Linked DNA regions of Homo sapiens: region 1 is linked to region 2. Evidence: fine-mapped expression QTL. A gene starts in region 2. The other region holds a variant in brackets. All regions are shown on one strand. Distances are between the middles of the regions.

Region 1 (5,368 bases), 38 kb before region 2:
GCTACTCAAAAGTCTAAGGTTGGAGGATTGCTTGAGCCTGGGAGGTCAACGTTGCAGTGAGCTATTCTCACTCCAGTGCACTCCAACCTGGGCAACAGGAAAAAAGAAAGCCCAAGGTCTTTTTTCTCTTTTCTCTTTTTTTTGAGACCTAGAGTCCCCCCCCCCAAAAAAAAAAAAAAACCACAACAAAAAGAAAAAAGCAAAGGTCCAGGTGTGGGGCATGTGAATCCAGGGAAGGAGGCCCCGGCTCAGCCCAGCTTTGGTCCTGTTCTTCTGGGAGAGTCGCCTCACTTCCTCCAGACTTGTCTCATCTTCCACGGGGGGGACTGTCTGCCTTTTGCTCTGATGACCAAAAACATGAGACTCTTCCGGGTAGACCTAAGAAAGGTAGAGGGTGGGTCCTCACAGGCCCACAAAATTTGGTGGTGGTGGGAACATGCCTGGTGGAGCATGCCTTGCTCCAGATCGGGGTGTGACGCATTGATGCAGATTATATTACTATAGAATATGATGGTCTCAGGGACCAGGCAGGACTTTGGCTTTTGAGCAGGGTTCAGATCCTGACTTGGCCCTACCTGTGCCGTGAGATCTCAAACAAGTCAGCCTCTAAGCCTCAGCTTCCTCCTTTGCCAAACCAAGAGATGAGCTGGCCTGGGGCAGGCTGTGTGGTGATGGTGCTGGGGTTGAGTCTTCTGCCCCTGCAGGTGGTCTATGTTGCCCGCAACGCAAAGGATGTGGCGGTTTCCTACTACCACTTCTACCACATGGCCAAAGTGTACCCTCACCCTGGGACCTGGGAAAGCTTCCTGGAGAAGTTCATGGCTGGAGAAGGTGGGCTTGATGGGAGGAAGGAAGGTGTGGAGCTAAGGGGTGGTGGCTACAACGCACAGCAACCCTGTGTCGGCACTCCCTGCCCGCTTCTCCAGTGTCCTATGGGTCCTGGTACCAGCACGTGCAAGAGTGGTGGGAGCTGAGCCGCACCCACCCTGTTCTCTACCTCTTCTATGAAGACATGAAGGAGGTGAGACCGCCTTTGATGCTTCCCTCCACGTGACACCTGGGGGCAGGCACTTCACAGGGACCTGCCAAGGCCACCCAGCCACCCTCCCTGGGCGGCCCCTCCAGCAGGCCCGGATTCCCCATCTTGACTCCCTGGCCCAGGCCCCACTGCAGCCCCATGTGGCAGCAGGCTGGGCACAGCTCTCATCTCCTGTGCCTGAGTCAGCTGCACGGGTGGCCATGGATCAGCTACTTTTTTTTTTGAGACAAAGTCTTGCTCTGTTGTCCAGGATGGCATGCAGTGGTGTGATCTCAGCTCAGTGTAACCCCCCCTCCCAGGTTCAAGTGATTCTCCTGCCTCAGCCTCCTGAGTAGCTGAGATTACAGATGCACACTACCATGCCTGGCTAATTTTTGTGTTGTGCCATGTTGGCCAGGTTGGTCTCCATCTCCTGAGCTCAGGTGATCCGCCTGCCTCAGCCTCCCAAAGTCTTGGGAATTACACGCCTGAACCACGGCCCCTTGCCACAGATCAGCTATCTATTCCAATTGCTTCTCCCTGCCAATGGTTATGCCACCCAGGGCCACAGGCACGGAAGAAGACCATCCCAGTCCTTACCCATAGGAGCCAAGCCCAGCTCATGATGGGATCACAGGGCAGACAGCAATTCATTTTGCCCCAGGGACTGGGGTCCCAGGGGTCGAGGAGCTGGCTCTATGGGTTTTGAAGTGGAAGTGGCCAGTTCCCCTCTGAGGTTAGAGAAGTGGACCCCTTTTATTTTCCTGAATCAGCAATCCAAGCCTCCACTGAGGAGCCCTCTGCTGCTCAGAACCCCAAAAGGGAGATTCAAAAGATCCTGGAGTTTGTGGGGCGCTCCCTGCCAGAGGAGACTGTGGACCTCATGGTTGAGCACACGTCGTTCAAGGAGATGAAGAAGAACCCTATGACCAACTACACCACCGTCCGCCGGGAGTTCATGGACCACAGCATCTCCCCCTTCATGAGGAAAGGTAGGTGCCGGCCAGCACGGGGGTTTGGAGCAGGTGGGAGCAGCAGCTGGAGCCTCCCCATAGGCACTCGGGGCCTCCCCTGGGATGAGACTCCAGCTTTGCTCCCTGCCTTCCTCCCCCAGGCATGGCTGGGGACTGGAAGACCACCTTCACCGTGGCGCAGAATGAGCGCTTCGATGCGGACTATGCGAAGAAGATGGCAGGCTGCAGCCTCAGCTTCCGCTCTGAGCTGTGAGAGGGGTTCCTGGAGTCACTGCAGAGGGAGTGTGCGAATCAAGCCTGACCAAGAGGCTCCAGAATAAAGTATGATTTGTGTTCAATGCAGAGTCTCTATTCCAAGCCAAGAGAAACCCTGAGCTGAAAGAGTGATCGCCCACTGGGGCCAAATACGGCCACCTCCCCGCTCCAGCTCCTCAACTTGCCCTGTTTGGAGAGGGGAGAGGGTCTGGAGAAGTAAAACCCAGGAGACGAGTAGAGGGGGAATGTGTTTAATCCCAGCACGTCCTCTGCTGTCCTGCCCTGTGTCGTTGGGGGATGGCGAGTCTGCCAGGCGGCATCACTTTTTCTTGGGTTCCTTACAAGCCACCACGTA[T/C]CTCTGAGCCACATTGAGGGGAGGGGAATAGCCATCTGCATAGGAGGTGTCTTCAAACAGGACCGAGTAGTCATCCTGGGGCTGTGGGGCAGGCAGACAGGAGGGGCTGCTCAGAGACCCCCAGGCCAGGACAGGCACCCCCTTCCCCCAGCCTAGACCACAGGAGGCTCTGGGCCGTGGACTCTCAGCCACTCCTAACATCCTTCACTCTGGGGTCAAGAAGTCTTGGCCCAGTCCCTGCTGCTACAGAGCTCTTTTCTCAGTGGCTGGAGACCCAAGGCAGGGAATAGGCAGGGAGGAGTAGGGGTGCTGACTCCCTTCCTAGTGGGGTCATAGCTGGAGGGTCTGCTGCCTTTCAAGGACTCTTTGTTGAGAGGACTGAGGGCAACCCAGAGGGTGGCAGGCAGGGATCCTGGCCTCAGGTGGCTTGTGTCCCATGTCACCAAGAGCACAAGGCGGTAGGAGCCCAGGGCTCAGGGCAGGAGCTTCCCATCTCGGAGCTGGTTCTCCTGGGGCTGGAAGCCACTGACTCGGGGCTTGCCAAGGCTGCCAGGGCTGGCAAAGGGATGGTGGCCTTTGGGGCTGGAGTGGAAGAGGGAGGGCAGCTGGTGGGTCCTGTCAGCTTGGAGCCTGTGAGATGAGGACAAAGGGAAGGAGTGGGGAGAGGACCCCTCGTCTGTCTGATCAGCCTGTTCCTGACATCACCCATGGCCTCTCCCCTGGAGGCTGCTTTACCCGCTGTGGGGGCGCATGGATCAGGGCGCGGTAGAAGCAGGTAGTCTGGGGATACAGGGCCAGCACGAGCTGCTCCTTCTGGAACAAGGCCTCAGGGTCCGTCTCCGGGTTGGCCTTCCACTGGGGCAGCGGGATGACACGGCGCCGGCTCAGGGTGTGTCTCCTGGGGGAAGAGGGGCTTATATCAACCTGTGGCCGGGTGGGGATGCTCCTTCTCAGCTGTTAGGCTGCCCCCAGGCTCCATGCCCTGCCCTGGCCTGGACACTCACTCTTTGCCTTCTTCATCGATGTCATCTACCTCATACCTGCAGACAAAAGGAGGAAAAGGCTGGATGCAGCCAGGGGCGCAGTACCTGTTGGGGAGTGAGGATGGGGGAGGACCTGGTGCTCCCTGCACAACCAGCCTCTGGGGAGCACCCTCTGCAGAGCTTTTCTCCCGTAGCCCAGGCAAGTTCGGTGACCAGAGAGCAGCCCCAGGGTTGGTGTCACTCACTTGTTGGTGGCATGGCTGTAACTGACCACCTCGGCCAGGATCCACTGCTCGTCCCCATCCACGGCCTTCACCCGGGCAGCCACCTTGTCTCCAGGTCTGGCCACGTAGTCTCCTGAGGCAGGGATGGCCCCACAGAGGGGTGGGGGCCTGTGAGTGGAACAAAGGGTCAGTCCCAGCCCCTGGGCACCAGCCCCTCCCTCGCAGCTGCTGCCCTCACTTGTCACCAGGCTTCCCGATCCACAGGGGCAGGGTCATGGCCGACTGCTGCAGCAGGGTCATCAGCACCCCTCTGCGCATGGTCTTCCGGGGTGGCTCCGAGTCATTGTAGAGACCGGCAATCTTGGCCGCTGTGGGAAGGAAGGGAGGCCTGAGGCCCCAGGGATAGGTGCCGGCCTTGACCCCCGAGCATGCTGCACTGAGCTGTTGAAGGAGCACCTGGGAGCCCCCAGTTCCCGAGTGAGCCCGAGGGCCCAGCAGGACTGTGACCCCATCGGCCATGTGTCAGCACCTATAGGGGCTGCTGGGTTTAACTACAGTTGGGTGAGATGGCAGCACAGCGGGGATCCAGGGGGAGGAACCAGAAGAAAGAAAGCGGGTTCCAAGGTGCTGTTCAGGCTGTGTTTGCTGATCTGAATGCTGGTTACAGAAGTGTGTTCAGTTAGTGACTATTTCATTGAACTCTGCACTTATGTGTACTTTTCTTCTATTAATATACATTGTAATTCAACAGAAAGTTAAAAAAACCAAAAAAAAAATTAAATGTGCACCTTCAACCTCCTCAGGCACAGCTGGACACCCCACTTGACTTCACACAGAACCAGCATGGCTGTGTGGGGACACTGACATGCCAAGATTCTGCCCACCATGGGATTGTTGGGAGGGCAGACAGGTAGGAGAGCCTAATGCAGGCTGAGGGGGTCTGGAAGGCTGGCTTTACGACACACAGCGTGTGGCTCTGCAGAAACCAGCCAGGGCAACAGATGGGCATGGGCCATGGCAGAGGAGGGGGCGACTGGCCCAGGCCCCAGAAGGGGCAGGAGATGAGGGGCCAGGGCGGGATGATCTCTGGCTGCTGAGGGAGAACTGGGAAACCCCTGCCTCTGGGCACTGGGAATGACCTCCTGTCCCTTCTCAGTGGTAGAGCCAGTCTGCCAGAGCCTCCATGGGAGGATGCCAGCAGGTGGTGGCCACAGGCCCCCACAGGAGGGTGACTGCTGCCCGCAGGGCCTCTCCTCTTGTCCTAGCAAAGGACCTCCCAGCATGTTCTCTCCCACTCACCAATCCGCCTCTCTTCCAACAGAGACTTGATTTCCGCGATCTTGTCCAGAGCTTTCCGAAGGATGCTGAGGGCGGGGAGAAGGGAGAAAGAGGGTTTGGTTAACGTACATAGCATAGACTTCTCTTCCATTTTTTCTGTTTTGGGTCAAGCTACATTGCCCAGGCTGGTCCCGGACTCCAGAGGTTCTCACAGTAGCCTCCTGCGCAGGTGGAATGACAGGTGTGTGCAGGTTCCTGTTCTGGTCAAGGTGGGCTGGGTT
Region 2 (5,368 bases):
AAAATTAATCGGGTGTGGTGGCACATGCCTGTAATCACAGCTACTTGGAAGGCTGAGGCAGGAGAATCGCTTGAAACCGGAAGGCGGAGGTTGCAGTGAGCCATGATTGCGCCATTGCAATCCAGCCTGGGCAACAAAGAGTGAAACTCCGTCTCAAAACAAACAAACAAACAAACAAAAAATTAGCCAGGCATGGTGGTGCATGCTTGTAATCCCAGCTACTCAGGAGGCTGAGGCAGGAGAATCACTTGAACCCGGGAGGCAGAGGTTGCAGTGAGTTGACATTGCACCACTATACTCCGGCCTGGGTGACAGAGCGAGACTCCATCTCAAAAATAAATAAATAAATAAATAGAATCTATATTCATCAATTGGTTAAAGAGACATTAAGAAGACAATTTTTTTCCTTCATGCCTCTGTATTGCAACTTATGCCAGTGTTTCTCATTTAAACCTTACAGCAATCCTATAAAATAGATAACAGAATAGTAAGTATAGTGAAGAAACTGAAATTCAGATAGGTTATGCTAGGTAACTCAGGAAAAATAGGTAGTTGAGCTGGGGCTGCAAGGCTGCAAGTTCTAAAACCTATGCTCTTCCTCTGAATTCCAAGTTGTGTCACGACTTCAGCATATTCAATAGTAAAAGAGATCACAAAAGTGGAAGCTGCCAACCCACCATTAGGCTATTATGACAACACTCAAAGTATCACCAGTAAAATGATGATTGAGGCAACTGAAAAACAAAGCTAGGGAAATGTGATGGTTAACTTTATGTGTCAAACTGATTGGGCTAGGGGATTCCCAGATAGCTGGTGAAACACTTTAGAGTGTGTCTGTGAGTTTCCTGAGGGTTTGCTTTCCTGGGCTTCCAGCTTGCAGATGGCAAATCTCGGGACTTCTCAGCCTCTATAATAGTGTCACCCAATCCATCACAATAAATCTCTTTTAAAATAGCTATACAGTTGACCCTCAAACAATGCAGGTTTTAATTGTGCAGGTCCACTTATATGTGGATTTTCTTCCACCTCTAGAACTCTTTTTTGAGACAGGGTCTTGCTCTGTCACCCAGGCTAGAGTGCAGTGGCACGATCTTGGCTCACTGCAGCATCCACCTCCTGGGTTTAAGTGATTATTGTGCCTCAGCCTCCCAAGTAGCTGGGATTACAGGCGTGCACCACCACGCCCGGCTAATTTTTTAATTTTTTTTTTTTTTTTTAGAAGAGACTGGATTTCACCACGTTGCTCGGGCTGGTCTCAAACCCCTGAGCTCAGGCAGTCTGCCCACCTCGGCCTCCCAAAGTGCTAGGATTACACGCATGAGCCACCGCGCCTGGCCAGTATTTACATTTAAAATGTGAAACTGGGATTGCGGTGGCTCATGCCTGTAATTCCAGCATTTGGGGAGGCTTTGGTTAGGAGGACTGCTTAAGCCCAAGAGTTTGAGGCTGCAGTGAGCTGTAATAACACCACTGTTCTCCAGTCTGAGCAACAGAGAACGTGTCTCTAATAAAAACAAAAATGTGAGATGATGCCTAGGTTAGAATCAGCAGAGGAGAAGCCAGAGAGAGCAGAGGCAAAGGAAGAGAACGTTCAGCAAGCCAAATGAAAACAGTGTTTCAAGGAGGGGCAGTGATCCACAGCATCAAATGCTGAACAGGACTGAGACCTAACTTAACAATGCATTTGGCCACCTAGAGATCACTGGTGGCTTTGACAAGAAGCCTTTTTAGTGGAGTGGTGGAGACCAAAGCCTGACTAGAGGCTCAAGGGTTCAAGACTTGGAGGAGAAAAGGCATTAGTGAGGGTAGACTAAGGCCTTTGGCTGCAAACCGGAGCCGAGGAGGAGGTAACTGGAGGATAGCGAGGGTGAAGGAGGCTGTTTTGTTGTTCTTAAGACGGGCATTTTTTGGCCGGGCGCGGGGGCTCACGCCTATACTCCCCACACTTTGGGAGGCCGAGGCGGGAGGTTGAGCCTCCTGGGCAAACGACGAGCTGTTAGTGTATCTTGTTAAGAACTATATATATATACAAAATTTTTGTGCAAATCATAAAATAAGTGCTGGAGTTCGGGGCCCATCCTCTGTCCGCATCTTCGTGACCCGGGTCCGAGTACCCCACCTGGAAGCTGCGTCCGTGCCGAGCCCAGCGTGTCGCTGTTTCCCACCCTCGCCGGGGATGGAAGCACGCAAGCGCAGACCTCGAGCGGCCGGGCGCAGGGCCCGCCCTCCCCGAGCCCCGGCCCCGCCCTCCTCTCCCGCCCCCACCCCCACGAGCCCCGCCCCCCTCCCGCCCAGAGCGCGTGCGCACCGCCCCTAGAGCGCCGCCTCAGGGAGGTCGGGAGCCGCGGCGCGGAGGGAGGACTCAGCCCTTCGCTCCCGCGTTTCGCCGGAGGTCTCAGGCCACGGCCCGTCGCCACCTACCGAGTCCGGGACAAAACAAGCTCGTCGGGCTGGAAACTGCGACGAGGGGAGCAGGCGCGTTCCTCGAACCCTTTTTCGGAGTCTGCGGATGATCACAGACCTGCGTTCGAAGATTGGCGGCACGTCGAGAACCGCACACGCTTTTTTTTCCTTTTATGAGCGTAGTCGCGCGCGGAGGACCTTGCACGCATGCGTAGTCGTTCCTCTGTGACGTGACCCGCTGCCCCGTGGGAAATGTAGTTTTCACTTGGCACACCGCTCCGGCTCTTGGCGGAACCCTAATTTAACCAACCAAAGTGCTTGTGCGTTTTCAGCGTTTTCTCCCATTTCCCCAGACTCTATTTAAAACAAAATGCAATAAATAAATAAATAAATAAAACTTGAAAGCGAACAGATTGCTGCTTGCTGGAGGTGGGTGGGCGCAGGGGTAATATGAAAACTGTACTTTCTGCTCAATTTTGTTGTGAACCTAAAAATGCCCTAAAAAATAAAAGTCTGTTGTTAAAAAATTAATTAAAAACAGGCCGGGCGCGGTGGCTCACGCCTGTAATCCCAACACTGGGACGCTAAGGCGGGCGGATCACCTGAGTTCAGGAGTTTGAAACCAACCCGGCCAACATGGTGAAACCCCGTCTCTACTAAAAAATACAAAAATCAGCCGGGCGTGGTGGCGGGTGCCTGTAATCCCAGGTACTGGGGAGGCTGAGGCTGGAGAATCGCTTGAATTCAGGAGGCGGAGGTTGTAGTGACTGGAGATTGTACCATTGCACTCCAGCCTGGGTGACAAGAGGGAAACTCCATCTCAAAAAAACAAACAAACAAAAAACAAGCAGATCTTTAGACCCAGAAATCGCACTTCTAGGGAATCTTCTCAGGAAAGTACTAAGGATATGGACGTGCAATGGACATGTAGCCTCAATGGTATTTTATCGAAAGCCATCCTGGTATCTTAAAGTTTCTTACATAACCTACAAATGTCTGTAATTATTTGTTGATTATTTGATAAACTTGCAAGTCCTATGAGATTGGGATCATCTTGTGTTCACCTGTGTATTCCTAGTACCTAGCACAGTGCCTGGCCATCACATGTTTCTTTTTTTTTCTCTTTGAGACAGGGTCTCGCTCTGTTGTCCAGGTTGGAGTGCAGTGGTGCCATCAGGGCTCCTGAGTAGCTAGGACTACAAGCACACACCAGCACATTCTGCTGATTTTTAAATTTTTTTTGGTAGAGATGGGGGTCTTGCTATGTTGCATAGGCTGGTCTTGAGTTCCTGGGCTCAAGCGATCCTCCTGCCTCAGCCTCCCAAAGTGCTGGGATTACAGGCATGAGCCACCAACCTCAGCCCCGTCAGTATTTTTCTGTTTATTAGAGAATCTCAGGCGTTAGCACTGAAACTATGTTAACCCCAAAATTAATGCATCATTTTCTTCCATCACACTTGCAGTTCTTTCTGTGGGCGTCAGGTCAGTGAATGACATGCCCATCCACCCAGCTGCAGTTCTACTTACTGCCTTTTATGAAGGTTATGCTTTGAGGGATTTTGCAAATTTTGCATTTGTAAAGGTCTCAGGGGCTCTTTTTCCTGATTGTTAAATATCAGCCCTAGCTAGGCCAGGCGTGGTGACTCACGCCTGTAATCCCAGCACTTTGGGAGGCCGAGGTGGGCAGATCACGAGGTCAGGAGTTTGAGACCAGCCTAGCCAATATGATGAAACCATGTCTCTACTAAAAATACAAAAATTAGCTGGGCATGGTGGCACGCACCTGTAGTCCCAGCTACTCTGGAGGCTGAAGCAGGAAAGAACCACTTGAACCCAGGAGGCGGAGGTTGCAGTGAGCCAAGATTGCGCCACTGCACTCCAGTCTGGGCAACAGAGCAAGACTCTGTCTCAAAAAATAAATAAATAAAATAAATTTAAAAAATCAACCCTAGTCACTGATCAGGAGAGATGTAGAGCTTACAGTTGTTTTTTAAATTATTTTGGTCTCTGCCCTGTTTTAAAATTTTATCGTTAATTTCTGATTTTTCTACAATAAACATGTATTTATTAACTTTTTAAAAAGTGTTTTAGAGTGTTGTCCACATGTAAGGAATTGCTCTGTCTTCTCCACATCCACATTTCTCAAAAGAATCATCTATACTCAGTTTTCATGTCCCACCTCCTACTTAGTACAATGTCCTGAGCCAGCACCTGGGGGTTATCCCTGACATCACCCTTTCCCTCCCCTCCCTCATTCAATCCACCACGTGTCTGCAATATAAAAACACATTTGTTAGGCACTTGCTATGCACCGGGCACTGTTCAAAATCCTTTACACATATTCATTCATATAACACAATCCACCTACTTTTCACCTCCACCACATCCACCCTAGGCCAAAGTAGGGACATCTTCCCTAAACAACTGCAAAGGTTCTCTGTTTTTTAATCGCTGGTGCTAAGGTTGAGTTACTTATTTCTACTTAATGACACACTTCGTCATTGGGCTCTGCACGGCCTCTCTATTTATTTGTTATTTTAAAAATTTTTTTGAGACAGAGTCTCACTCTGTCACTCAGGCTGGAGTGCAGACGCGCGCCACGACGCCCAGCTAATTTTTTATATTTTTAGTAGAGATGGGGTTTCACCATGTTGGCCAGGCTGGTCTCAAACTCCTGACCTCAGGTGATCCACTAACCTCAGCCTCCCAAATTTCCTGGGATTACAGGCGTGAGCCAGCGCGCCAGGCCTCAGCCCTCTGCTTTCAACACCTGTCATTGTGGGCACACTTTACCTATGACTTACAGCAACCATGCAATATTTCGAAGTGGGCAGCAACATTTCAGTTATGATGGACCTGTAAGTTGCCTCCAACTACTACTGGCTACCACAAACAATGCCACAGTGAACAACCTCATGCTTATTCCCCTGCGGTCTATATGAAGATTTCTCTGAGATGTATGCCC

Alleles and levels. Alleles are on the strand shown, and positions count from the first base shown. SD is a standard deviation of normalised expression in the study named.
As copies of T replace C in region 1, the expression in monocytes after R848 of the gene that starts at base 2,599 in region 2 goes up (large effect, 0.76 SD a copy in Quach 2016).

Evidence for each region. PIP is the estimated chance that this variant, and not a neighbour inherited with it, causes the effect.
Region 1: its variant is fine-mapped to the expression of SGF29 in monocytes after R848 (Quach 2016, PIP 0.95). The same link has a PIP of 0.9 or more in activated naive CD4 T cells.

The regions. Positions count from the first base shown.
Region 1 is chr16:28,588,905-28,594,272 of GRCh38, reverse strand. It overlaps SGF29 (SAGA complex associated factor 29), which reads right to left. Exons shown (of 10, transcript NM_138414.3): 5 at 5,109-5,173; 6 at 4,048-4,177; 7 at 3,831-3,977; 8 at 3,607-3,642; 9 at 3,338-3,500; 10 at 2,483-2,683. The coding sequence ends at 2,567. SULT1A2 (sulfotransferase family 1A member 2) reads left to right here. Exons shown (of 8, transcript NM_001054.4): 5 at 705-831; 6 at 927-1,021; 7 at 1,830-2,010; 8 at 2,133-2,330. The coding sequence ends at 2,245. Among named protein-coding and RNA genes, the nearest start is that of SULT1A2, 5.5 kb to the left of the region's middle. The variant T/C (reference allele first, on the strand shown) is at 2,603.
Region 2 is chr16:28,551,151-28,556,518 of GRCh38, reverse strand. It overlaps SGF29 (SAGA complex associated factor 29), which reads right to left and starts at 2,599. Exons shown (of 10, transcript NM_138414.3): 1 at 2,422-2,599. RefSeq lists a silencer at 2,171-2,290 and an enhancer at 2,311-2,630.